Regions from separate parts of the Homo sapiens genome. Here all the other regions are reported to be linked to region 4. Evidence: microRNA targets listed by miRTarBase, many of them from high-throughput screens and not tested one by one. Region 4 holds a microRNA gene; each other region holds the end of a gene's coding sequence.
The links. The annotated mature microRNA hsa-miR-555 reads AGGGUAAGCUGAACCUCUGAU and lies in region 4 at 2,841-2,861, opposite strand. An mRNA with a match to its seed (bases 2 to 7 or 8) in the 3' UTR can be bound and repressed. Matches are read on the target gene's strand: a 7mer-m8 pairs with bases 2 to 8, a 7mer-A1 pairs with bases 2 to 7 and ends in A, and an 8mer does both.

Region 1: miRTarBase lists PAX3 as a target of hsa-miR-555. Seed matches in the 3' UTR shown: 7mer-A1 at 5,530-5,536.
Region 2: miRTarBase lists NAP1L1 as a target of hsa-miR-555. Seed matches in the 3' UTR shown: 7mer-m8 at 5,213-5,219.
Region 3: the mRNA of UBXN7 is a reported target of hsa-miR-555. Seed matches in the 3' UTR shown: 7mer-m8 at 843-849.

Annotation. Positions count from the first base shown.
Region 1 is chr2:222,195,491-222,202,603 of GRCh38, forward strand. PAX3 (paired box 3) reads right to left here. Exons shown (of 9, transcript NM_181458.4): 8 at 6,454-6,700; 9 at 4,397-5,952. The coding sequence ends at 5,918. Among named protein-coding and RNA genes, the nearest start is that of CCDC140, 99 kb to the right of the region's middle.
Region 2 is chr12:76,042,065-76,049,188 of GRCh38, forward strand. NAP1L1 (nucleosome assembly protein 1 like 1) reads right to left here. Exons shown (of 15, transcript NM_004537.7): 15 at 1-6,400. The coding sequence ends at 6,365. Among named protein-coding and RNA genes, the nearest start is that of PHLDA1-DT, 14 kb to the left of the region's middle.
Region 3 is chr3:196,350,380-196,357,503 of GRCh38, reverse strand. It overlaps UBXN7 (UBX domain protein 7), which reads left to right. Exons shown (of 11, transcript NM_015562.2): 11 at 658-7,124. The coding sequence ends at 819. Among named protein-coding and RNA genes, the nearest start is that of TM4SF19-DYNLT2B, 16 kb to the right of the region's middle.
Region 4 is chr1:155,343,525-155,350,644 of GRCh38, forward strand. MIR555 (microRNA 555) reads right to left here and starts at 2,921; the gene lies at 2,826-2,921. It overlaps ASH1L (ASH1 like histone lysine methyltransferase), which reads right to left. Exons shown (of 28, transcript NM_018489.3): 18 at 6,018-6,072; 19 at 5,803-5,935; 20 at 4,132-4,380; 21 at 2,859-2,945; 22 at 659-749; 23 at 80-218.

The sequences.
Region 1 (7,113 bases), not on the chromosome of region 4:
TGATTTCCTGACCTCAAGTGATCTGCCTGCCTCAGCCTCCCAAAGTGCTGGGATTACAGGCTCACCCATGAGTTTCTTAACTGGCCCTTGAGATTGAGACTCTCTCAATCTGTTTTTAGGAAAGAAAAAATTGCCCCACTGCGCCTCATCTCAGACCTTCTGGACCCTATCAACCAGGATTTCTCAGAAGGCTCTGCCTGCGGACCCTTCTGATTAGAGAATCAGTGGGGGCCAGCCACTGTCTGATCTCCTGGCTCCTTTAATCCGATAACCTAAGAGCTGGCATCATGTAAAAGTGAATTGGCATGCCCTTTGCCACTGCATCTACCCAATAAATTTCCACTTATCCTTAGAGATTCAGCCCCAGGCCCACTTCCTCTGAAAAGTGCTCCTACGTCAGACACGTTGGTTCTTATACTAACTTTTGCTTACATGTTATTTGTGTTCCAACTCTTTCCTGAGTTATCCAGCTCATTCCTCTGCCCTGGGGTCTTTCAACAGCAGGAACTGTGTTTTATTCACCGTTAGAGTTCCACTGCTCCTACTTGCACAATAGGAGCTTGGTTAGTATCCAATGCATTAAGCAATTAATTAGGAAATAACAATCACTGCCCATTTCCCTCAACTCTGCAAGCAGTGAAAAGAGTCAGGGTTTGTGGGGATTATTTTTGAGAGTCGGGAGCTCTATGTATGTTCAGCGGCATGGAGTGGGGGATGCCAGACAAGCAGAATGGAAAGGCAGTTAGGTTTTCAGCTCCATGCTTTACACTCTCCCAAACGCCACAGAAGCACATGAGCCTGGGGAAAAAGATGTCGCCACGCCTCTTGGGGAAGAGCTCAAGCATTCCTCATTTTTGCATGGTGGGGCTTTGTAGGCCTCCAGCTGGGAAAACGATGGGATCATAACACAACAGCAACCAACTTGGCATGACTCTTCCTCCTAACTCCACCCCTCTTCCTCATGCACCATGGCCAGAACTCCTGCCTTTCTATGTCTCACCGTCTGGCTTGAGAGGGGGTAGTGAGGTTTGTTGGAAGATAAGGCTAAGCTGTGTCCATATTTCCTATCTCAGGTGTGCTGTGGTAAACAGCCCTGACTACTGCTTCAAGCCCCAGAAAACTTACCTAGTCAGGTGTGGCCACGGTTGCAATGCAGCCAGAGGCTTCTCCCGGAGCTCCTGCTTTGCCAACTTTCCTGGCATTTGTCTTTGTGGATTCTGAGTTCAGTAGTCTCAATGGTCTCTCTCTCTCTCTCTCTCTTTGTTTTTAATGTGCAGATTACTAAACAGCCAGGGCTAATAGTCACTTTTCTAAGCAATAAACCAACTGGCTATTTCCCTTTTCTGTTCTAATCCTCCCAGTGGTGAATCCCACACATCACCACCTTGTATCCTCTGCTACAGTCAAAATCATCAGAAATATGGCTTTTGAGTGACTTGTTAGGCCAGCTGCCTCTCACTCCTTCCCTAAGACTTCATACCAATCTAACCTGGTGGCAATCTGTGCACCTTTGGTCATGCAAATGTCTCCCTGCTCAGAAGATCATGTAGGGACAGTATAAGAAAATCACTTTTCATCTATTTATTTATTCATTTATTCAACAGGCATGTATTGAGTACCTGTAATGGATCAGACATGGTGCTAGGCACTTGGGACACCATGGTCAGCAATTCCAAAGGGGGATCTATGGAATAAAGAGAACTAACTCATATCACAGCCATCTGGTGAGAAGTCCTATACACAGCTCTGTTTTCTTCCTTTTCTCTCATACGTCATCTACCACTGACTTCCAGCTCCATGAGCACTTTTCTGAGGCTGAGGCTTGCCATGTGGAACTTTTTGCACAAATACTGCCACTCGTCACTTACTGTGCCCACCATGTTTGACACCGGCTTTCCTTATCCATGAATGACTTAACACCAAGACTCATTCACTCAGAATGGTTGAGGCTCAGGTAAATAGATTTCCTTTTTATAGATACTTTGGTTCTGGTCCTGTGTATTAATTTTAACTCTTAATTATGTAGTTTTCAGATAGATTCTTCCATGCCATATTCAGATAAAAGGCATTAATGAATCCATCTCCTTCTCCATTTAAGACTTCCTAAACTTATAGCCATGAGCCAGTGATCTTGTCTCTTACTCTGGTTCTATATGCCAGCACTAATGAAGATCCCTTCTAACCTAGGATGTTTCCCAAGCATCCAAGTGTGTATGAAAACACATTTCCAGACTGGGCTAAATCAAAAGCATAAAACAATATGCTTGTTTCTGTCACAGATGTGAAATGTATGATATCTATTCCTAGAAAAATTGCTGCCAAGGAATGGCTCAGCAGCTGACAATGGTACATCCACAATTTAATAATTTGAGTTTTAATTTTCAGCTCTTACTTTTAATTTTTCAAATGAAATCAAATAACTACATGGGCAAGGGGGAACCCCCCACATACAATCAGGTTCAAGTTCTGTTGAATGTCAAAGGGTCAAAGTTCTTAGGGCTGCTTGTCCCAGCAAATGAGGGTAGGAACTCTGACTGAAAGAAATCAGGTCACATTTCCCCAGAAATTGATTAGATATTTTAAGAGTCTGGAGAAAAAAGATCTACAGGGACTTTCAACATGAGAAGTAACAGCAGAGAAGTAGATTTCAAAGACATGCAGAAATAAGAAAAGGACACAAAGAAGTATATCAAAATAAGATATAAGCCATTCATGACAAGTTCTGATATCAGGAGACAGAAAGGAAAACTGATCATGTAAAATGAGTTTCTCTTGTGTAATCTGAATCCTGGCAGCATTCCTCTCATGTATTGGGAGTGAATGATTTTTTTAAATGCCTGTTTGCAACTTGAGTTTGGCATGAGGATAGACTGATATAATTAAGTGGGTAAAACAAACAGGTTCTGCCACATGGTTGCATAGAAGTCAAAGCCTTCTTTTGCCATTTCTGGCTATATGTAATGTTGGCCCAACTGCTTAACAGCTTTGGCCTCAGTCCATTCATCTATAAGTTTGGGTGAATAACACCCACCTTACGGGACATTGTGAGGATTAAACAAGACAATAAAAGTAAATGTGCTGTAAAGATTAACTTCCTTTCCTCTTAAATTATTTTTGGAAAAATTGTCAGAAGAAGAGCAACACATTTGATCAGAAAGATAAGTGTGTGAGCTAAAAAAAAAAAAATAAAGCATTTTACAACTTTGGAAAATGTTACCCACTGCATTTCAAGTTTTTGATATTGTTAAACTATGAACTCACGTGCATTCAATCAGCTGACCAGTCAACTTTCCTGTGATGTGGAATGTCCCACAGCAACAATCCCCAGTATGGCAGCTTCTGGCCTCGTGTGACTATCGCACACTTGAAATGTGGCTAGTGCAACTTAGGAACTAATTTTGTCATTTTATGTACTTTTGTTTCTTTAAATTTAAATAGGGATACATGGCTAGTAGCTTCTGAATTGGACAGCACCCTTTTAGATCTTCCTGACTGTAAGGTTCTCTCACACCAGTCTTGAGGAAGCAGAAGAGCATGAGTTTAAACACCTTGGGCACTGAGATTGTACTAGGTTCAAATCCTAGCTCTGCCACTGAGTGATTCATGTAAGTTCCTTGAGCCTCAGTTTTCTCATCTGTACAAAAGGAATGGTAGTGACATCACTTGCTGCATGTGACATGTGGAGAGTAATAAATAAGTTAATACAAGTAAGAGCTTCAAAAGGTATTATGATTATTCCTTCTAAAATAACAGTCCTCACACTTTATTGAAACTATGCATTTACTTCTCTGCCTTCTCTACTAGGCTACAAGCACCGCTATAACACAAGTGCCAATCACCATGCCTGGCACATTTGGACTCTCATTAAATACATTCAGGAAGAAGGGAAGGAGGGAGGGAGAGGAGAAAGGATCAGGAGAGGGAGGGAAGGAGAAGGAAGAAAGGAAGAATGAATGAAGTACGCAGTAATACCTTTCATGAAGAATAAAGTAGGCTGCTAAAATAAAATAAATAAAATATGAGAGTTTTAAATAAAAATTTCCGTGGAGATGACTTAGAGATGAAGATGGAACCGGGTACTCCAGGGAAAACATATCTCTAAGTGACAGTAAAGGGACTGGATAACTCTGAGAGAACCAAAGAAAGATGAAGGAAGCTAAACTGAAGGGTTTTTCTAGATGCTACACTGATAAAAACATAAACTTCAATCCTTAAAAGTGTGTTCAACCAAGCTTCTTCAAGAGAATACAACTGTGGGTTGTGTAACCTTATTTGTCGACAGAATACTCTCATAGAAAGGGTCCACCAGAAGTGAAGTTCATGTACATTGGGCTCCCCATTGCCAAGTTTTCATTTATACTACATTCACCAGTTCCCCCAAAAAAGCAGTAGTGGGCAAGTTTTCATAACTGTTTATTCATTATAAATAGTAAATATTTACTGCACTTTTTACATGAAAGACATTTTTACAACACATTGTTGTTGGTTGAGGCTGCAACACAAAGATAGTACTTCTCTTGTTCCATCACCCTCTAAGACCAATGCATGAACTAAATTCGGTACTATGTCTAGTCTCACTAACTCGCTACGTCATAGTTCTTAACTCTAAAAGGAATGTATTTGTGCCTACCTCATTCGTGGTTCCAAGAATAGAAAGAAATAAATAACACTGCCTTCCACCTTCTTGTTCCTCTCAACATCTCAAAAAGCAAATTTATTGACATTCTAAAATGTCACCACACAAACGTATGTAAACCTCAGTTCCTATAATCTTTTAATATTGGATATCATTGTATAATTTAAAAGTACATGAGAGCCATGTGAACACTTCTGTTCTTGCCCTGCCTTTCATAGAAAAGAGAAGAATGTAAACGTAATCAGTTTAAAAGCATAATTATCTGATCTGGTCTCTAATCAAAGGAGCAACCCGGGTGTTGGTTGTCCAGCAAATGGCAAACATCACTGCACTCTATCACTATGAATTATGGGCTGTGAAAATAAAAGCACCTGCAAAAATATACTTCTGATTTTGCTTATATCGCCTTGGGCATTGCCAAAGCATCCATGAGGTACACAGTATTGCACACTGATAAGCAGATATGTGAATGCATGTCACTTTCTCTCCACCGTGCCCTTCCTCCAACCCAGGTGGGCTACCAAATAAATGTGAACTGGAAAAACGTCACACACCTCTCCCCACACAGGAAAGGGAAACAAGTCCTTCTTCCTGGTAGCCCATATCCTGTTAGCAAGACATGTCCGGGCCATTTATTGACAACTAGATTACAAATGAGGATACAGTAACAAATAATTTATTTAGGAGGTCCTTTACAGCTAGTCTAGCTTCCTAAAAATGGTTGCATTTATCTTTATTTCAATTTCCAGTGTGTAAGAGTCAAGGATTCCTCCATTCTTGCTTCATGAAATGAGCAGTTTTAAAGTTGTAGAAGTATCAGCATCGAACATCGACATGTTATACTTTAGGGTATTCTATTATATTTTAGAACAGTCTGCTTGCCCAAACCAGTCTGGGTAAATCTCAATACACACACACACACACACACGCACGCACGCACACAAGCAAATGGAATGTTCTAGCTCCTCGATGATCAGCACTAAAGAATTGGGATGTTTTGATATGTAACCATGTGAAACCATTGCCTTAAAATGTTGCATTTGTCTTTTATTGCTCCAGGTCTTCCTCTTCTCCACTGCTTTTGTCGAACGTGTTCAAAAGGATTTGAAACCAACTATTGGAGGAAGAAAATCAATCACTCTCCTTTGTCTCCTATTGGGACCACTGCCCCACCCCCCCCAACAAAAGGGTAATTTTTTTTTGTTTTCAGAGCAGATTCTTCATATCTAGGCTGCGAAGACCAGAAACAGGGCCAGTTTTAGCTCCAAGTGGACAGTTCACTTACGCGATATCTGGCTTGAGATAATGAAAGGCACCTGTAAGGAAACACACGCAGCTTTTTAGGTCATGCTGGGACAATTCACAGTCAGGGGCAAGATCAGCTACAGGCTGACAATGTCATATTTAATACCGTGCTATCAAAGGCTTGAGACTAATATTTTTATTCCTGAGACAAGTTTGACACAACTTTGTGTCCCTGGGATTATCCCCCATATGATCCTGGAGCTGACCTCATTAAGAACATGTGTTTCTAATGTCAGGGATTATTTCATTTTGGCCAACCCTTGTGTTTTACCTAGTGGCAATCAGGTTTCACGTCTCAACAATTAATAACCGCAAGATGTTGTTGACATCAGTTAAGAAAATAATTACACAAGGAAGCCCCTGCTGGAACAGTCAGCTGGCTTTGCAAAAAAAAAAAAAAATTGATACCGGCATGTGTGGCTTAATCTTGCCTCTAATTCACCTTTCTTAAGGAAGAGTTGAGTTTATCTCCCTTCCAGGAGAAATTGCCCCCTAAAAAGTCCAAGGCTTACTTTGTCCATACTGCCCATATTGGTAGCCTGTGACAGGGTCCATACTGTAGCCTGTGGTGCTATAGGTGGGTGGACAGTAGGACTGAGATGTTGGCAGACTGTCCAAGCTCTTCATATGGTCTAGTCTCTGACTGCAGCTGGCCGACACCGTGGTGGTAGGTTCCAGACCCCCGGTGAGAGGGGAGAGCGCGTAATCAGTCTGGGGCTGATGAGGTACCCCACCGTGGTTGGTCAGGAGTCCCATTACCTAAAAAAACAGCCAGATTGGGAAGAGGTTAAAATGCAGAGAGATCCAGATTGCAGCCTACAGCTGAAAGAATAACTTGACAGTCCAGTTTTTATTTCTTTGGAAATTGGTTAAAGAGCTGTCCAGGAGACTATGAACCCAATTCTAAGTGGCAGAGATATTACATCATGCCCGACGATAACATCTGACTGCAGTTGCAGAAGAAGGAAAGGGGGAGGGAGAAGAGGGGAGAAGAGGGGGAAGAGGAAAAGAAGGAAGGAGAAGAGGAAAGAGAGAGATTACACCACGTCCCTAGTGATAAAATCAGACTGGAATTTCAAAGAAGGGGGAAAAAAGGATGAAAAGAGGGAGAAATTGTATCTGTTCATACAGAAAAATGTCTATTCATACATTATATCTGGAAGTTTCACATG
Region 2 (7,124 bases), not on the chromosome of region 4:
GTTTTTTACACATAAAATCTTCAAAACGAGGCATATGTTTAATTTTATTATCCAGTCTTAGTCTCAGTGTTCTTATGTACACTGAGTAATGCATCCCTTACACCTAGGAGGAATTTTGCCTTTGAACCAAGAAAACCCCAACTAGTTCAGAAATAAAGTTCTAAAACCAATTTAAAAAGTAATCCCAATCACAAATTTTAGGTTTTCTTATGTTTAGGAAGTGCTCATAGGCTCTAAGTACTTTTGTTTCCTTATTAATGTTCACCACGATCTTTCGCAATACAGATGAAAAGACTGATGCTGAACCAACAGGTGGTAGACAGACTCTAAAGCCTGTGTTTAAAGACACTACCCAAAGACACTACTTGTATTCTCACACATATCCATTAAAATTTGGTAGCAGAGACATTTGTTTAGGGGCTGAAAAGTTTTAGTCTAAAATTAGATCTCCATTTTTATTCATGGATTCTTATTCCTATAGAGCAACCTCATCTACTTTCCTAGTTGGATCAACTGATTCCACTTATTTGAAAATAATTACAAATACGGACGGCAGTAGCAGTAGGAAAAATAACATTGTTTGATTCAACTTCAAAGTATCCACTGTGCGTTCAGTTTTTATGATACATGTACAAATTTTCTTTCACCTGAAAGGCCCTAGAAATACCCTGTAAAGAGCATATTCAGCAACTGGACTTAAGTTTCTAAGTAATACTCCCTATTCTAAGAAGCCAGCAATCCTTGGAGAAATGGCCCATTCCAGGGCTGAAATAGAAAACGCCTGTAAGACTAGAAAACTTTTTGAGCCAAAAAGTATGTTGATCAGAGTAAAGAATATACCGGAATTCTTTCAACTATTTTCAGAGTTGAAGGAAAGCTGTAATATTGATAAGTTACCCCAAAACACCAATCTGGAGTTTGACTAAGGGGATTCACTGCAGATAAAACTTTATTCAGCAATTTTTTTAAATAAAGCTTTTGTTCTTGGCTAAGTAAATTATCTTAACAGCTAACAGCGTCTTGTTCACTGCTGCTGCCACGTCATTTAACTTACTTTTTCAGTTGCATATATATGACCCTGAAGCCTTTACTGGCCCCTGGGGCCCACCTACCTCAAATGTTCTGACCTTCAAATGGCTGACTTGGTCTATCAATCATGTCTTCCTTTAAAAATTATCTTTCAGCCAGGTGCAGTGGCTAACGTCTGTAATCCCAGCACTTTGGGAGACCAAGATGGGTGGATTACCTGAGTCCAGGAGTTCGAAACCAGCCTGGCCAACATGGTGAAACACCTCTCAACAAATGTAAAAATTAGCTGGGCGTGGTGGCACGTGCCTGTGATACCAGCTACTCGAGAGGCTGATTGCAGCAGTACACTCCAACCTGGGCAAATGAAGTAAGACCCTGTCTCAGAAAAAAAAAAAAAAAAAAAAATTTCTACATGGAATGGTCATCCTCATCCTCACTTGAAATACTCTTGTAACAGGTGGTTCCAGTGTTTTAAACCCATTAAGAGGACTTCCACAGCTAAACTTTCTATGGACTGGCCACTTGTATTTCTACCTGTATTTCCAGGTATCTCAATTCCTTGAATGTAGCCTCAATTGTTCTGTTCTGGGACCTTTGCCTGTATTTCCTCCTGTTCCTCCACCTGAACTGCTCACCGTTCAGAGGTTCTTCCTCTCACTTCACAAATTCCTACAGATTCTCAAAATCTCAGCTAAAAGCTCATACAAATTTTGAGCCTTCTGGTAGCAACTATTTTACAACCTCATGAAATTTACCAGAGCCGCAATTGCCTAATACATTATGAATGATAAAATTATGAATAAGACCTTCAACTCTGGATATGAGATCTGTCGACTTCTGGCACTCACGTTTAATCACACATTCCTAGTTCCTTCTTTTTGGCTTTAAGTTTAAAACATGTAAGAAACTGGCTGGGCGTGGTGGCTCATGCTTGTAATCCCAGCACTTTTGAGAGGCCAGCACTTTGAGAGGCTGAGGTGGGAGGATCACTGGAGGTCAGGAGGTCGAGACCAGCCTGGCCAACATGGTGAAAACCCATCTCTACTAAAAGTACAAAAATCAGCTGGGCTCAGTGGCACACGCCTGTAATCCCGACTACTTGGAATGCTGAGGCACGAGAATCGCTTGAACCCGGGAGATGACAGCTGTAGTGAGCCGAGATCATGCCACTGCACTCCAGCCTGGGCAACAGAGCAAGACTCTATCTCAAAAATAAAAATAAATGGATAAAACATGTAAGAAACTAAAAAGCAATGCTTTTATGTAATATTTTATCCTGGGTTTCAAAATAATAAAACTCAGTTTGTTCTAGGATCCACAAAACTTAAAATGCCCAATTTCCCATAGGAAAATTAAACAACCAGACTGACTTATTTCCCGCCAGTAATCTATTATTTCTAAATACCCCATTTCTTCTTTTATTCAGACTCTTGGCTTGAGGATGACATGGTCGGGCCTCAATAAGCCCACTGTAAGTCAAAAATATCATAAGTAGAAGATGTGTTTAATACTCCAATAAACTCATAAAGCTGAAGTCTTAAGTCAAACCATTATAAGTCAGGGACTGTCTGTACTAAGATTTTAGTGAATAACTTAATTTTTGTAAACTGGAAAACCTGACAATATGATGTCAAAAGGAAGAAACACAAGATACAAAGCATACTGTATTTTTGAAAATATACATCAATCAAAATTTCTTATGAATACTTATCCTTGAGTAAAATAATTTCATATACCAACAAGGATGTTTCCATTTCTGTAAAGTCATGTAAGTGATCCTCAATCAGTCCAAGAACTTGGCTTTTTATCCAGGTTATATTTTAATATCTGGAGTTTTAATCCAGCATACAAAAATCACCAGTATACATCTATTAAGTTAACTGCAGTATTATTTCACCATCACCATTTACATGTACTTTTCAGGTATCAGAGACTTAGTGCTTTAAGTAGCAAATTACCTAAATTATGAACACATATTTCCAAAAACAAAATCAAGCTCATAATTACCAAGTATATATGTACAGTGCAGATTAAAAAAAAACTGAATTAGCACATATTTCTCTTTTCTAAAGCTCCTATGAAGAACTTACACTCTTCTGCACTACCAATCTATTCTGTACATTTAAAATAACATTTGTTTTGATTTAAAGTCAAAAATATAAAGGCTTAAATTTTTGTAAGACTAACCCATAAAAAAGGACTCCAATTTTAAACCAATCCCTGAAACCAAAGCATTCAAATATTTGAATATTAGTTCAATATTTCTACATAGCACGATAAGATTTTCAGTTACTTCAAGTTTTGTCTTTATTTTTAATAATGGGAATGGCCTACAATTACAATAAACAATTAATTCAGTTATTTTAGGGGCCTTACCATATCATTAACCTATTCACACAACAAAAATATTTTTATGAAAGTTAATATATCCTTTCCTGATTAAGTGTGCTAAAACAGAAATAGAGGTAGAATCCCATTTTTCTTAAGTACCACTCTACAAGCCAGTTCCACACAATTAAGGTATTTTTGCAATCTAAAATAGTGATGCTAATACTGCTTCAGTAAGCTAGATTTACTAATTTAAGAATCCTAAGAAATTATATATGTGGCTTTCAGACATCCATGTTAAACTATCAACTTGTGGAATTTGTGGAACACTTACCCTACTTGAGTGACCATAAAGCAAACAACTCTAAAATTTTTTCATATCAGTTTTCTTTATAAGTGATTATATGATATTTCACCATTTCTAACAGGAAAAAATGAGACTTACTTGGCAGTGTGCATGGGCTGCTGGAAACTACAATCAGAGTGTAAAGACAAATCTCAAAAATGTTTGTAGATAACTCAGAATAATAACCCAGAATATAACCTATCAGGAACTATGGAATTCCATTTTAGTCTTCAAATAATAAACTCCACTTAGCAGGGATTGTGAGGTTGCTCTTAAAATTATATATTTACAGAACATAGTGGCCTCAGCACAAAATAGCTCCCTCTAGACATCACTACTCTCCACTCTTCAAAAAAAAAGTATATACATTCATTTAAAAAAAAACACCCAAAATATCACCAGTACATTTTATAAAATTAAATCCAAATTTTATTAAGGATTTCAGGTTACATACTTCAAATTTCTAGAATGGAATGGAATCATTTTGGAACTGGAAAAATGGCATAAACACTGACGTCCCTTAAAACTTCAATTTTATAAAGAAAATTCTTCTGCAAACCACATCCCCTTTATGTAACAAGACTAGGTATTATCTACACCTTCACTTTGGCAATAGCTATTTCCTAAAGAATGAAAAAGATGATTTTGCTACTTCAGTTCATTAAAAATGGGATTCTATCTTTGAAGTTCAGAAAAAGCTGCATTTCGATGAACTATGGTTAAAAAAAAAAAGCACATAGTGTCTAATCAAAGCAAAGGAAATCATTTTGAAAATAAAGAAAAAAAGCTATTATAATTGGTTAAGGATTTCCAGTAGTAAGTTAAAATCTCAGGAGAGGAATGGATAGCACTACAAACAATGTGTTCACATTCCAAGACCTTAACACTAACTTCTCAGAAAGGAAGTTTTCATTACCTCTAAAAATCAATTCAATGTAATTTTATTAAGAGCAGGAAATCTAGACCTTCCTCTAATGACAATCCAATAATCCACCCTCACTGTCAAAAAAAAGTTCAACCCCAAAATTAACAGTAATTAGCCTGAGGTATTGTAAATGTGGCTCTACAGTCTGAAATTTAATGGCATCTTTTGTCAAAAATAGTCTTATTTCCACTTTAAGTCTCATGACTACAATACTATAGTGCTATCCCTGTAGTATTTACAATACAGTCATCAAAAATATCTGAAAACAAATCTTGGACCTTGTGAAATAGTGCATCCCTCCACTTCTATAAAAATAGGAGCCACACAAAGATCTAAAAAGAGTGCTGACTGCCCAGATCCAGAACAGAGGTACTTAACACCTTTGTTTTCCAGTTTAGTTATCAAAGCGTGGTGTGAACAAAATGCTTAGTGTCACACTGGCATTACAAATAGGCCCAAAATTTTGAGCTTTTAACAAGATTGAGAAACATTATATGAGATTTAACTCAATATGCCTTAACACATCCATGAGGTAGTTAGGTAAACAGTACTACCCATTTTAATTACACAGTAAACAGAAGCACGGGTAAGTGACATACTCATACTTTAAGCAATAAGAATTAGAAGAAACCATAGAAGCTTGGGGCCTTCTCTCTAGCTCTAACCCAAAGAAAATGAATTTTTTTTTTTTTTTTTAAAAGAAAACAGCATCAATCACTTAAGATTTTCTTCCTCTTTTTTTTTTTTTTTTACACTTGCTTATTAGTATAGCATCTCGTTCCAAAGCTGGTACCTTTTCTTCAACAATGTGTTAAAAACTGAGTATAACCCTTAATTCAAGGTAGGCCTCTACTTCTACCTGAATTGGTACAAAATTAAGACATTATCTTGTAAGAACTAAAATTGTATTTGAAATTTTTATTTTAGCTGCAAAAACAAAAACAAGCAAACAAACAACAAATAACTTGAAAATAGGCTTGTCAAATGATGTAAATTCATCCTTTCCAGGGAAGCAGAAGGTAGACCCTACCACAAAGAAAAGATGCTTAGTTAATGGAGGTTAAATTTAAAAATACAGTTAAATTCAGGCTAACTTCTGAAAATCCCGTTTTATTCACCTCACTGTGGTACCAGTAACTATACTGAGTCAGGTTACTTTACAGTTAACTATGTCACCTAAAACACAATAATCCATTAACACTCTAATAACAGTTATTGGGTGTGGTCATACTGGAAATTCTTAACCATATAGTTGTCTTGCCAATTTTTTTTTTAAACAATAAATTGTCTTAGTATAAGTCACTGCATTTCTGTAACAAAGTAATGAAAGGCACAGCTAATCCAAGCGGACTTAACCCTATTCAACAACCAGCTGAAAAAATACTTTGGTTCTTCAAGGAAAAAATTACAAAAAAAAAAAAAAGGTATTTCCTTTAACAGTTGTTAATTTTCATAGCTGTACTCCAAGAGCTACATAAAAATATTCCAGAAGAACCAAATTATGTAGCAATGAATGAACATGCGTGACAGAATTTGTGCATTCAACATAGCTGGCAGAAAAACTAGTTAAAATGCTAGGTAGAACAAATTGGTCTTTAAAATATCAGTTTCCTGTCCTTTAAAAAAAAATTACCTAGTCTACCAAGAAAATACAAAAACATAAGGCTGTAAGTAAATAAGAGTTGTGTTTAGGCTATTACAGTGCAGGTTATCCTCAAGGCCACATACATCCTGCTTCACTGCTGCTTGCACTCTGCTGGGTTTTGATCCTTCTGTTAAAGGAAAACAACAAGTCAATCTATCTTCTTCTACCTGCTTCAGTGAATTTCTCAATAGTAATTACTGCCTTAATTATAACAGTAGCTCACTGTTGTCAAAAGAAATGGTATAGGACAATGGTGGTAAATTATTTATTTTATTAGCAAGTCACTGAAATGCTAAAATCAAGCTCAAACTTTACACTGTAGAATTAACTCCATAAAATGTGACACACGCTAAACCATAATCTTAAAAAAATAAAGTTACCAAGCAATTTATGTTAGTTATATTACCAATCAGCTTTGTTTTTGCTAATCCTAATATAACAAATTCTCAGGAATAATAGACTAGGACTCTCAGGGACTGAGTAAGAGTAGTTGGAAGGATCTAACAAACTGCACTGCTCCCCAGTTCCCGAACACTCCTACAACCAGATCTTTTAAAAACCTTTATTTTCTAATGCTTAAAAACTGTTACAAATCGTCCCATTAAAATAGAATCCTAGGGTTCACTGTACCTGAAACTATAAAAAGCACGAAGTCCAAACAAAAAACAATGTTTTTTAGAAAAACGTCCACTGAAATTATGTGTACTGTTCACAATGCCAGTGGGACTGAAAAAACAAAGTTATCCAGTCAATAGGCTTTATTTATTAAAGACTTTAACGGAGAGAAACTTGATATTCAAAAACACCAACTCTTACTTTAGCTATCTTAAATTTAATAGAAAGCAGCACTA
Region 3 (7,124 bases), not on the chromosome of region 4:
CCGTGCCCCGACACCCTCTGTTTTTAACTGCTGGAAACAGAATCTTGAGTCTGACTAGCTTAGCTTAGCTTAGCCTGTGAATGAATCCCTTGCGTCAGGCATTGCTGGCCGTTTGCTGTGGCTGGAGATAATTAGGCTGATTCTTGAAGACTGTGTTACTGAAATGCAAGCAGTGTTGAAGTTTGATGGGAAGCAGAGAGGGAGATGTTGAAGAAACCTGCAAAAGATGGGAATGGTCCAGTTTCTGAGAAGGCAAGAAGAGATTCAGTGCACAGGTGGCAAGATTGGGTGTAGGCAGAATGAAGGACATATCTTCCTTGATAAAAGGGAGAAAGGAAAACGGATAAAATGTTTTAAAATGAGAACAATAATTTAATTTTATGAATAGTGACTGGGTATATTTATTGGGGAGCCAAATAATAACTGTGTATTTCAGTATCACTTAATGGCTGTAAGTAATTGGGGTCAGATTTATCTCCCCGTCCAAAGGTTTATATTGGCCCTTCCCCAAGGGCAAGCTTTGGTTATATGAAAGAAGAACTTACATTTAATAGCTGATCTAATATGATTAAAAAGAGAATGTTTTCTATTTAATTCACTAATATGCTCTTTCCTCTTTTTCCGTCTAATGGCTTTGTCTTTCTCTTGTTTTTATAGGCTTTGGTGAAGCACGTGCAGTCTAAAGGATACCCAAATGAACGTTTTGAACTTCTCACCAACTTTCCTCGAAGGAAATTATCTCATCTGGACTATGATATTACATTGCAAGAGGCAGGCCTTTGTCCTCAAGAGACTGTCTTTGTACAGGAAAGAAATTAACACCATGGCTTGACCTCTCTCAGCTTACCCCTTTTTTCCCTTTTCCTGTGAGATACATGTCACTAAGTATGCATTTTGGCTCATAGGACCACAGAGCCAAAGTTGGGCAAGCAAGTCACCTTCCTTCTCTTATTTCTTGATCTCTCCTATAATCAGTCTCTTTCTCCCCCTTTGTTTCTTTCTCCTCTTCTGTTTTCTCGCTCCCCACTCCGTACCCTTCTGCCTCCCCCTCCCCCCACACTTTTCTTTCTTACCTAATCTGGTGACCAAACTGAAGTGTAAGGATAAGACCTCTCCTAGTACTAGCAGCAGGAATTGTGTGTTCCAGTAAGTGGTCTCTTGCACGGCACTTTTTTGGGATCAAATGTTAACGTTACTCCCCAGACTCTTCGGGCAAAGGAATGGCTAGATTCAGAGTAAGAACAACCCTCCCTTTTTTGTAAGTCCCCGTGTTTAGCAGGGAGAAGAAATTCTCTAACATGGGTTTGGTTTTGTTGTGTTCTTCATGTGGAAATGTCGCTTAACAAAATATCCAGGCTTTTGTTTACGTGGAAAAAGCATCCCTTGTAATGATTGCTCATCATACTTAAAAACCTTTTTCAAAGGATTTTCATGTTCCCAGCTATAAGGACTATTTCCATGACATGTGTTATTGGCAGAATGAGTGTTAAATATGGAGCATATAGCATGGGGTGACTTTCATTGTCCTAACCTGAGACAGTTTTCCTTATTACTCTGTATTGATCCTGCTAGTCCAAGAATGGACATGAAGTGAACCTATCGTGGTGACTGGGATAGGAAGGTGCTTGCTATTTTTGCCAGCACAGCATATTAGTTCCTTTGGAGCCCTCCATTGTCTGAGTCTGCAGTGATCTGTAGGAAGGCAGCTGGTCAATAATCATGTAGTACAATGGCTTGGAATTGTAACCACTATGGTTATTGATTGTCCTGTGTTGTTTCAGGCATACTTAGGTATGTCCCTGGGGAAAAAGAAAACCATTCAGCTGAGAGTTGCTAACCATGTTCTTTTGGTTAGAAATAATGGTTCATTTTTTGCCCCTGGTTGGAATAGTCTCTAAAAGGCTCTGGTGACTGAATTGAACATGAGTCCGCATGCTGTTTTCTTTCAAAAGGTATCAAAACGGAAAGCCTCTCTAAGGGGAAGACCTTTCAACTCCATTCAGAAGACAACATTTAGTAAGGAGGATGGCGGAGGTTACTAGTAATTTTCAGATGTCTTGGGCTTTTTCTGCCAACAAAACCCAAAATCAAATTAGAGTTGGTGAAAGCTTTCTTCAGTGTTTTTAGAAGAGGCCATCTTGAATCTGTAGAATACCATTTACACATCAACTTCACCCTATGCTCATTTCGTATTTTGAGCTTAAATGGAGTCCTCTGAAGGGGGGGTAGTCGTGATTCTGGTGGCAAAACTAGAACTTTTAACTTGTAAAATGAAAAATATTAAATGGACCTTTTTGTCAGTTGAGGATTTAGATTGATTCTTTTATCTGAGGAGCGTATGTTCCTCAGATGTTGCGTAGAGACCTTTAGGTTTTCATCTACTTTAAGATTGCTCTCTTGGCAATTAGGGGATTTGGGAAAAGAAGAAAAAAAGATGCCATGTGTTGCTAGTACACAGTTATAGGATATGGTTTCTAATGGTTGAATTTTGAGGAACTCTCCCTAAAGAATGAGTTTTATATCTCCTCAAGGAAATCATGGAAAAATCTGTTTATTCTTCAGTGAGTCCTTTTGAATTAATGTTCTTAAATTTTTTTCTAAGTCTGTGTAAGTGCTTATGTATAAGTATATAATTGTATAAATATTTATAAATATATTTATATAATTACGGTTTCATTTCTACCTTGAGTCAAAGTTCTGTCTTTAGATTGGTGACTGAGTAATACTTACACTTTGGTGTTTTTTCTTAGGTTCTTGAGGCTTACTTAACTAGCAGCTTCTGATTTATTGAGTGAAAGATGGTTTTCATGTTAATTCCTCAGTTGCATCTCTGAACTTGGATAACATACTTGCCGTTTGAAAAATAGAGCTGTATACTGTCAAAGGTGCACTGGAGGGTAAAACATTTGTTGGTAGTAGACAAGCTCAGAAATCCAAAAATTCAGGGAGGGCACAGGGTAAGAAGAGAGGTTTGCTCAGCTTTGTGCTCTGATGGCACCCATCTGTACTCCAGCAAAGTCATAGCTGAAGCCCAAATCGCTCAAACGTGTGAAGTCAATCATTTTTCCTATAGGGCTCTGTTTCCTTTTCTTTACCTTCTAGCTTCTCTTGATAAAACAGTTGGGAGAACTGCCAACGTGTTCATCAGTGAGAGGGTGTGGTTCTTTCCGATATGTTCAGCACGTGCATATTCATTTATGAGAAACCAAAGTAACTTCTTCAACTCGGGTTACTGTGGGATGATTAAGTAGATATAAAGTGATTTAAAAGACAGCATGGTACTTTCACTCAGCTTAACATGCAGCTGGGATGTCTACAATACAAGATGTGGTGGGTTTTATTTTATTTTATTTTGAGGCAGGAGTGTAATTATCTTAGGGTTGATATAAAGGCCCATGGGAAGAGTTACGGATTGTACATGGGAAGAATCCATAAGGAGTATTGCCTTGCTCAAGAATTTAATCCGCTGACAGTATGCTTCTTCCAGTTTGCCTTACTTCCTCTGCAAGTTTCTTTGCTCCTTAGGGCAGAGGTTTTATTGAATAGATTAAATGAGGTCAGTAAGATTAGTTAAAAATAGTCATTCCTTGTGGGTGTTGGACACAGCTTGAAAGGAGTGTTTAAAAAAAAAAAGCTAGGGAGGAAAAGAACAAGAAAGATAGACTTCGAGAGTGATAAGAGAAAAATACAGGGAGATGGAATGGAAACTACCAGGAAGGCCGGGCGCGGTGGCTCATGCCTGTAATCCCAACACTTTGGGAGGCGGAGGTGGGCAGATCACCTAAGGTCAGGAGATCGAGGCCAGCCTGAGCAACATGGTGAAACCCCGTCTCTACTAAAAATACAAAAATTACCTGGGTGTGGTGGCGTGCACCTGTAATCCCAGCTACTCAGAGGCTGAGGCAGGGGAATGGCTTGAACCTGGGAGGCAGAGGTTGCAGTGAGCCAAGATCGCACCATTACACTCCAGCCTGGGCGACAAAGCGACACTCCATCTCAAATTTAAAAAAAAAAAAGAAGAAGAAGAAGAAAACTAGTGGGAAAAAAGTGAGAGGAATACTTTTTTGAAATTGGTATCGGAAGGAACTGGAGAAGAGAAAACAACAGTGCCAAATGAGAAAAGAACAGGAAACTTAATACTAATTGGCATGCACCAGATACTTTTGTGTACATTTGCCTCTTCAATCTCCCGAAGAATCGTACAAAATGTATACTTTCTTCCCATGTTAAGAAAACAGGTATAGAGAACTTATTCAGGACTCATAGCTAGTGAGTGGCAAATCAGAATTGGAATCCAGAGTCCATGCTGTGGTCTCCTTCAGCAAGAGAATCAAGCTACCCAGATGATTCTCTTCTCATTGTTTGGCTTTGTAAAGTGTCACTTAGTTTTGTTCCCATAAATATAGAGGAAGTAGTTGGGTTAAAGTTGTGGGATTTGCACTATGCCTATACATTTTTATTTATGCCATTATTTTGAGAGGCTGATTATTGCTTTTTTAAAATGATGCACTGGTGAAGATGTGAAAGTAAAATTGCCACGTGGCATTATTTGCCAAGAATAAATGAAAAGGGTAAAAAAACAATTTTTTCTTTTTTTAAACATTTTTCAGAAAAGATACAATTACCTTTTTTAATAGGTGAGCGCCACCACGCCCGGCTAATTTTTGCATTTTTAGTAGAGACAGGGTTTCACCATGTTGGCCAGGATGGTCTCGATCTCTTGATCTCGTGTTCCGCCCACCTCGGCCTCCTAAAGTGCTGGGATTACAGGCATGAGCCACTGCGCCCGATCTACAATTCTGTTTTCTGTGTCCCATCCATACCAGATTATTGAACCCTCTGTGTGTATGTTTTTAAATCTTGTATATAATTCTACTTCCTTGACTTACAAGTCAACAATTAGCTATTGAGTTCTTTATAGAAGTTGGAAGTATTTTGAAATCTGAGATCTAATTCCTGGCCAGGTGTGGTGGCTCATGCCTGTAATCCCAATATTTTGGGAGGCCGAGGTGGGTGGATCACCTGAGGTTGGGAGTTCGAGATCAGCCTGGCCAACATGGTGAAACCCCATCTCTACTGAAAAATACAAAAATTAGCCAGGCATGGTGGCTGTCTGTAATCCCAGCTAATGGGGAGGCTGAGGCACAAGAATCTCTTGAACCTGGGAGGCGGAGGTTGCAGTGAGCCGAGATCACACCACTGCACTCCATCCTGGGCAATGGAGCGAGACTCTGTCTCAAAAAATAATAAATAAGATATGATTCCTGCCTGTTTTATCCAGTTAGAGAGACACACTACACATGAAATAATTGGAGAGCATGTAAATGTTTACCTATTAGTTCAAACTTAGAAAAAGGGAAGAATATGTTTTAGTTAGCAAAGTCTTAAACAAGACTGAAGTGGCAAGCACTGTAGCTCACGTTTTCTTTTGACTCACCTTTTTCTTTAGCTCCACCTTTTGTAACTTCTAGATTTGGGGCATGAAGTTCTGCCACTAAGGCATAACCAGTACCCAAGTAGGAAAGGATTATTGATCCCTGGAGTAAAGATTCCTAGCTTGCGGGGATCTCACTATTGATCCCCCGGAGTAAAGATTCCTAGCTCGCAGGAATCTTACTTGCACACTTAGGGAAAATACCAGAGGGAGCCACTAGCAACCGAAAAATGAAGGAAAGATTTAATTTCTCTACCCAGGTACAAATCCAATGCATAGTATAGTATATGTTATATGCAGAAAGGGCACTGGAGGTGTGAGAGCCCTTTGGGTAACAGCTCTGCTAGTTGTTACCTTCACACTTCTCTTTCTTCTTAATCTCTGGTTTCTCGTCTGAAAAATGAGATAATTGGACTAGATTAATAGTTCTCAGCCTTTTCTAGAACAACAAATTAGATTATCTCTGAAGTCCTTTTCCAAAATTTCATGCTTCCAGTCTCTCCCCGTGATTGCGTATTATCCCTAGGCTAATTAAAAGTGTGCTGGTTAATCAGTTTCTTTACTTTTTTTTTCTCTCTTTTTTTTATTCTGTGTTCAGGTATCATTTGACCAACAACTTGCTCTTAATCTTACTGCGATGACTGAAATCTCCAAAGAGGAGAGTATAGTAGTTATAGGTCTAGTAATAATAATCTTGTAAACAATTCATTATTTTTTAAAACTTAATGCTGTGTGCCTAATCAGTGTTGAGTATGACTAAAATGTAAATGAGAACCAAATATGACACTAACGCTGGCACTAAATTTTATTTTTACTTGTGTACTTAAAGTACTTTACTGGCCTGTTGGGAAATTGATTTGTATAAGATTCACACCTGGTTTTGGCAGAAACAGCTTTTTAAAGATACAATTAGGCTGACTTAAAAATGTTTTTTATTCCACAGAATGTATCTTTATTATGTCATTCTTACCGTCTCTCTGCCTTTTTTGACCATCATGTAACTACGCAGTAGTAAATCATGGGGTGCAGGCTGATGAATTAGTAGTCTTTGTAAAACTAAAATGTAATGAGCATAGGAAGAGACAGCTCTTCTGGTGAACATGGCAGTTTTCCGGTAATACCAGCCTTGATGAATAGGCTAAAGACAGCTGTGTACTATGGACATTCAACTTCACTGGATTGCCTGGCTTAGCTTTTCAGTTATTGTCTTGCCGTGAAACATGGTGTTGCACTGTACACATTTTAGAATAGTGGCAAGAATGTTCTTTAGAACTGCAGATAACCCAACAGAGAATACCATACCAATATATCGGTTTCTCCTGTTACATAGAGATTTGGTATTTCAGTGATGGTTATGGTTTTTGACTCACCTGTGTGTCAGTCCTGCTAGAGAGACAGTATAGAATCAAGAATTTCTTGATGTCTTTTTAAAAATAGAGATTATAATGGCCTTGCTAGTTGTCCTGTGAAGTGACAGACCCTTAATTAGAAATCTTTTAATCCTGCTTTCCATTTTACTTCTCCACCATTTATTTTTAACATTCATTCTCTGAAAATAGTTATGATTTTTAGTGTAATTGGCTATGTTTAAGAAATTCCATTTCAAAGTCTTAATATGTAACAATCTTCATTTTTTATAAAATTGAAGGACATTTTTGAGGCAAACTTACTTTTATAGCTCATTTTCTCC
Region 4 (7,120 bases):
GATTAGCAAGATCCTAGTGAACATTCAGCTCCACTGGTACAGCACGGCTGGAAGAAAAGGACAGGACCTCAGCACGTACTTTTCATTCTTCCAAAGCTTCTCAATGCGAAAGATGTCAAGTTTATCTCGGTTAATGTGAGATAACAGTCGATAGGACTGACGGACCGGGTGGCCATCAGGGGTGCGCCGACTATCCCTCATCAGATACACACAGTCACCTAGGAAGACCCAGAACACAGAAGAAACATAAAACAATTCTTGTATGAATTCTGTTAGGCATCTGTTTATCTGACTCAGGGTCTACATAGAACTCATAATCTGAAACAGTATAAATACAGAGAGCTAAAAGCAGCAGTGTTAAGTGATGATAATCAATTCTAGACTATGACAATAATATAAGGGAGGCATTCCATTTCTTGAGCTTCCTATATGTTTTTCCCAGTCTTAAAATTAGCTTTGTAACATGTCTATCATTTCAAATTAGTATTATTTGGTGGAGAGGTGATGCATGTAAGCACAAGGACTACAGATATAAAAACTTATATTCTATTGCTATTCGAGGCCGTATGGAGACAATGACTATGATGGAGACAGCAGAGACTTCCTACTATTCAGAAAGGTCACCTCTGACAAGTAGGATTAGCTCCTGTATACATACCCTGACGAAGCAGCAAGTCATCTCGGAGCAAACAGATGAAGTAGACACAGCCAGGTTGGGCATAGTGGGGCCGAGGGATCATGGGAACCTCCTGATAGGAGCAGAAAGCCAATGTATAAGGGCTGGAATTACTACATTCAGCCTACTTATTTCTCAACCTAGAATTCTCAATCAAAACTTACTGTTTAGTCATTTCAATATACCACAGATATACAAAAAAGATGAAAGCAACTAGAGCTGTTAAACCTGGAAAAGTGAAGGTAGAGGACAAAACTGATAGGCTAAGTATCTCAATCTATGTTTTATGAAGCACTAATTGTGTAGTTGCTCTACGTAATCTAGGGGCCATATGAAAATGTGTGAAGGGAGACTAATTATTACAATGATTGGGGTATGCTACTGGTATTTAATGCCCAGGGTCCAAGGAAGCCAAACATTCTGAAATGCATCCCTCACAACAAGAACTATTCACCTAAACATGACAACAGCAACATTGTTAAGAAATACTGCCTAAATCTCTTCTTTTTTTAAAAATGACTTGCCCAAAATCACACATATAAAGATAGCAGAGCCAAGCACAGAACCCACTTAATGACTTAGGCAAGCCACTTACCCTCTCTCCTATGAAGTGAGCCTAACACTAACCTTTGCTGATTCTGAGTCCAGTGCTCTTTTCACTTAAACCACTGTCTAACATAAATGACGTTAAGGGTACCAAGTTCTGGATTTTGTAAGCTATTCCTTTCATGGACATCTGATAGTGTTTATAAAAACCTCAGTTTTGTTTTTTTTTGAAATGGAGTCTCGCTCTGTTGGCAGGCTGGGGTGCAGTGGTGCGATCTCGACCCACTGCAACTTCCGCCTCCAGATTCAAGTGAATTCTCCTGCCTTAGCCTCCCGAGTAGCTGGGACTACAGGCACGCAACACCACGCCCAGCTAATTTTTGTATTTTTAGTAGAGACGGGGTTTCACCATGTTAGCCAGGATGGTCTTTTTTTTTTTTTTTTTTTTTTTGGAGACTGAGTCTCACTCCGTCACCCGGGCTAGAGTGCAGTGGCGTGATCTTGGCTCATTGCAACCTCTGCCGCCCAGGTTCAAGTGATTCCCCTGCCTCAGACTCCCAAGTAGATGGGATTACAGGCGCCTGCCACTGCACCCGGCTAATTTTTTTTGCAGTTTTTAGTAGAGATGGGGTTTCACCATATTGGCCAGGCTGGTCTTGAACTCCTAACCCCATGATCCACCCGCCTTAGCCTCTCAAAATGCTGGGATTGCAGCCGTGAGCCACTGCGCCCGGCCGAGGATGGTCTTTATCTCTTGACCTTGTGATCTGCCCGCCTCGGCCTCCCAAAGTGCTGGGATTATAGGTGTGAGCCACCATGCCCAGCTTTTTTTTTTTTTTTTTTTTTGAGACAGTGTCTTGCTCTGTTGCCCAGGCTAGAATGCAGTGATGCGATCTTGGCTCACTGCAACCTCTGCCTCCTGGGTTCAAGTGATTTGCCTGCCTCAGACTCCTGAGTAGCTGGGATTACAGGCACCTGCCACTGTGCCTGGCTAAGTTTTGAATTTTTAGTAGAGACAGGGTTTCACCATCTTGGCCAGGCTGGTCTCAAACTCCTGACCTCATGATCCACTGCACCCGGCCTTTTTTTTTTTTTTTTTCTAAGAGATGGGGTCTTGCTCTGTCGCCCAGGCTGGAGTGCACTGGCATGATCTTGGCTTACTGCAACATCTGCCTCCCGGGTTCTAGCAGTTCTCTTGCCTCAGCCACCCAAGTACCTGAGACTTCAGGTGCACGCCTCCATGCCCGGCTAATTTTTTTTGTATTTTAGTAGAGATGGGGTTTCACCGTGTTGCCCAGGCTGGTCTCGAACTCCTGAGCTCAGGCAATCCATCCGCCTTAGCCTCCCAGTGTGCTAGGATTACAGGCATGAGCGACCGTGCCCGGCCAAAAACCTTAGTTTTATATAGTGCCATTCCTTCCACAGATTTCTAAGTATTTTATTTTCCCTTTGGTCATACTCCTGAAATAGGGAAGAACAGAATTATGACCCTTAATGTAAAGTTTAAGAAACCAAGGCCCAGAGAGGCTGAACAACCTATTAAAGGAAATTCTGCAAAGCAGGAGCAGGACAGGTGAGATACCATGTGCTACCTCTCCTACTTATAGATCAGAGTTTTATCAGAGGTTCAGCTTACCCTGTCCACAGGCCTTGGGTCACACTGCTCACAAAGGTAGTGCTCCACATCTGAGTTCACTCCCATACAATCACAGTGCTGCCATACCTGTAGAAAAACATACAGTTTGGGGAACATGGAGGCTATGACTTATTGAGAGTGTCCTGGGAGCCCAGAATAAAAAATTAGCAATAGGTCAGGGTAAAGTAAAAGAGGAACTAAGGGATAACTGGGTGAATGATAAATTAGAGATAAATGGTAAAATAGGAGGAAAACAAAATAATGACTGTTCTAAGCAAAAGTATACCGATTGACTCATAATCTATAGATCTGGGCAAATAAAATGGGGAGATGGACAGAGAATAGGAAAACAAATAGACTACTGAACTATTACTAAGTAATTTAAGTAAATGCTACAGCTATTCTGCTTTCAGAATACAGCTACAAAATGTTTTATTTACTCCTGTCTAACTTTAGCCTCCCAACAATCCTGTGCGTTACTTACAGCCACTTTACACATAAAGTTATGCATTCACATATATTAGTGGGGACACTAAGGCTCAAATCCAGGCTTTGACTTCTTCATCAGGAGCCCTACATGTATTAACATATTTCACTCTATCAGAGGATTCAATTAATAGAGTGTATTATCACTAATGATTCAAAAGGCAAAGCACTATATGAAATACTGTCATTTTCCTTGATCCAGATTATGTGAGAAGTGTACAGTGGAAAGTGGGCAGAAAGAAGGAAAGAGCCAGGCGTGGTGGCTCATGCCTGTAATCCCAACGCTCTGGGAGGCCGAGGTGGGCAGATCACTTGAGCTCAGGAGTTCAAGACCAGCCTGGGCAACATGGTGACACCCCATCTCTACAAAAAGTACAAAAAATTAGCCGGGCATGGTGGCACGTGGCACATGCCTATAATCCCAGCTACTCGAGAGGCTGAGGTGGGAGGATTGCTTGAGCCTGGGAGGCAGAGGTTGCAGAGAGCTGAGATCGTGCCACCACACTCCAGTGTGGATGACAGAGCAAGATCCTATCTTATAAACAAAACAAAACAAAAAAACAAGAAGAGAGGAGAGAAGGAAAGAAAAAGAAGGGAAGGATAAAGTGAAAGAAAGATAAAAGGAGAAAGGCAATATAGTAAACACAGAAACCTAACAGAAACCAAGGCTAAGTTACAGTTCATAAACAGTCTTTCAAGCCAATCCAAAAGAGGCATGGGCTTCTTCTTTGAATATGGTCACCGTGTTCATCAGGACCAAGCTTCTGCTTCATTTCCTGACCCTCACCATGCACTTGTCACACTGGATCATGAGACCTTCATCCTTGTAGAGGCCACAGATACAGCGAATAACATCGTCGTCCTTCTCATGCCCATTCTCCTTTTCAGAGACTGAGGTCTCACTGCTGTCTGCCTCACTTGCTGTCTCTCCCACAATCTCATCAATCTGGGCTGATGCCTCATGCCGGGCATTGTAATAGGCCTTTCGTAGACGACAAACATCTCTCCCAACTGGGGATTTACGCCCATAGTACTTCTGAAGAAAGCAAATAAAGAAATCATGTTTGGTTCTCTCAATGTGGCTTAACAATTTACCTAAAGAGGTAGCAAGGTAGCATGACTTTCTTTACCCTCCCATTTTGGTTAACAGATTTTCAATAGTATCAAATATATGGCCAGATAGTTGGTAACAACTTAAACTGAACTAAAATGAATTCAAGTTAGAATCTGCATGTTATTTTTCCATTTGCTCAACTGATCTGTCATTCAATTCCTGTCACGGGCCTTCTTGTCCCCAGATCAAATACACAGAGATCATGAAATATGAATTGATATCACAAGCATAATGTACTGTAGAAGTTCAACATACACCTTTGTCTTGTGGATATCTGTGACAGATCTACAGGTGTTGAATCTATGTGGAAGCTGGGTTTCAGTAGGAAGAATGTTACAATTTAAGATTGCTCTAACTCTTCTCCCGCTTGTCTATTTTTCTTTCTCATTTTGTCTTTCAACTTCTATTATTCCTTTATCTAGTAGGATCTTTTGTCTTCCAAACACCTCTCCAAGGCATGTCAAAATTACTGAATAATTTCCTCTCTTCTATGCACCATACAATAGTCCATCCTGTCCTTTAAATCAGTTCAAGGCCACTTTCTCTCCAATGAGCTTCAGCTATTCCATAATCTATCACTGTGATACTCCTCAATTCCATCCTCAAGATATATTACTGGCCAGGAGCCGTGGCTCACGCCTGTAATCCCAACACTCTGGGAGGCCAAGGCAGGCAGATCACCTGAGGTCAGGAGTTCAAGACCAGCCTGGCCAACATGGTGAAACCCTGTCTCTACTAAAAATACAAAATTAGCCAGGCATGGTGGCAGGCGCCTATAATCCCAGCTACTCAGGAGGCTGAGGCAGGAGAATCGCTTGAACCCGGGAGGTGGAGGTTGCAGTGAGCTGAGATCACGCTATTGCGCTCCAGCCTGGGTGACAGAGCAAGATTCTGTCTCATTTAAAAAAAAAAAAAAAATATATATATATACACACACACACACACACACACACACACACACACATATAAACATTTACCTATGCATATTTCTGTATATTTCACATGTACTTATTTTCTTGAGGAAAGAAACTACAGATATTAGTTAAATGTATTAAAATATCTATATAACGCAGTCATAAAGGTTTAATACTAAATTAGTTTTTTACAAAAATTATTTTTTTGGGGGGGAATGATTTAACCTTCCATTCTAGTCCTATCAATGTCTTCATAGATAGCCTTCTATAATATTTAGTATACTGTAACACATACCCCAAGGATACTCAAAAATGACTGGCTTTTCCAACCAGAAATATGGCTGATAGAGGAGGGTAAAAATCTTAAACTTCTAGACTAATTCTTTTCAGAACAAACTTGTGAAATCTGTTTGAAGTCAGTGAAAAATACCTCAGCATTCCGAAAGACTTTGAGCATGTCAGCATCAAAAGCTTCCACTGTCTTATAGTAACCAGTGAGGATCTGCTTCTCTATGGTGATAAGATCTAGGGGATCAGAGATCTTCTCATAATAATCAGCATTCCTGGAACACAAAGCCAGGGTGTCAATCTGGCACACTTAGCACTTTTTAAAAACTCAGATGATTCCCACAAATGTGAACCTACTTTTTCTTTGGGGGAAGGTTCAAAAGTGGAGCTGCCAGTGCTTGCCGGGAAGAATCTGCAAAAGAATGTGAGGTTTAGTAGAAAGATTCCACCATACAAGGGAGGCAAGCATCTCCTAACTGGAAGAATAGAATCCCTCAAATTAAAAGTGAGAGAAAAATCCAAGTCTTTTTTTTTTTTTTTTTTTTTTTTTGAGACAGAGTCTCACTCTTGTCGCCCAGGCTGGTGTGCAATGGCATGATCTCAGCTCACTGCAACCTCCACCTCCTGAGTTCAAGCGATTCTCCTGCCTCAGCCTCCCGAGCAGCTGGGACTACAGGCGTGTACCACCACGCCAAGCTACTTTTTTTTTTTTTTTTTTTTTTGAGACAAGAGTTTCGCTCTGTTGCCCAGGCTGGAGTGCAGTGGCGTGATCTTTGCTCACTGCAAGCTCCACCTCCCGGGTTCATGCCATTCTCCTGCCTCAGCCTCCCGAGTAGCTGGGACTACAGGTACCCGCCACCATGCCCGGCTAATTTTTTGTATTTTTAGTAGAGACGAGGTTTCACCATGTTAGCCAGGCTGGTCTCGATCTGACCTCGTGATCTGCCCGCCTCAGCCTCCCAAAGTGCTGGGATTACAGGCGTGAGCCACCGTGTCCGGCCAATTTTTGTATTTTTAATAGAGACAGGGTTTCACCATGTTGGCCAGGATAGTCTCGAACTCCTGACCCTCAGGTGATTCACCTGCCTCGGCCTCCCAAAGTGCTGGGATTACAGGCATGAGCCACTGCGCCTGGCCAAAAATCCAAGTCTTTTTAAGGCCTGTGAAAAAGCCACTTTTTCAGATATGTAGATAAAGGCAGGGATCAAATGACAATTCTAAGATTGTCTAGGATATGAAAGATATAGTTGCATCTGCTTGAAAGGTAGCACAATGTTAGTTGGGTAATGAGAAGAACTTCCTGTGAAGAATGAGAGATGGGAACTTATTGAGGGTAATCTGCTTAGGGCAAATTACTACTCAACAAATCTTATAATAGCAAAAAGAATATCTTATCCAAAAAGTGCTTTCTAGTTCTCATTAACTGCCCTTAATTAATAGTAATTTGTTTGGCTGGGAAT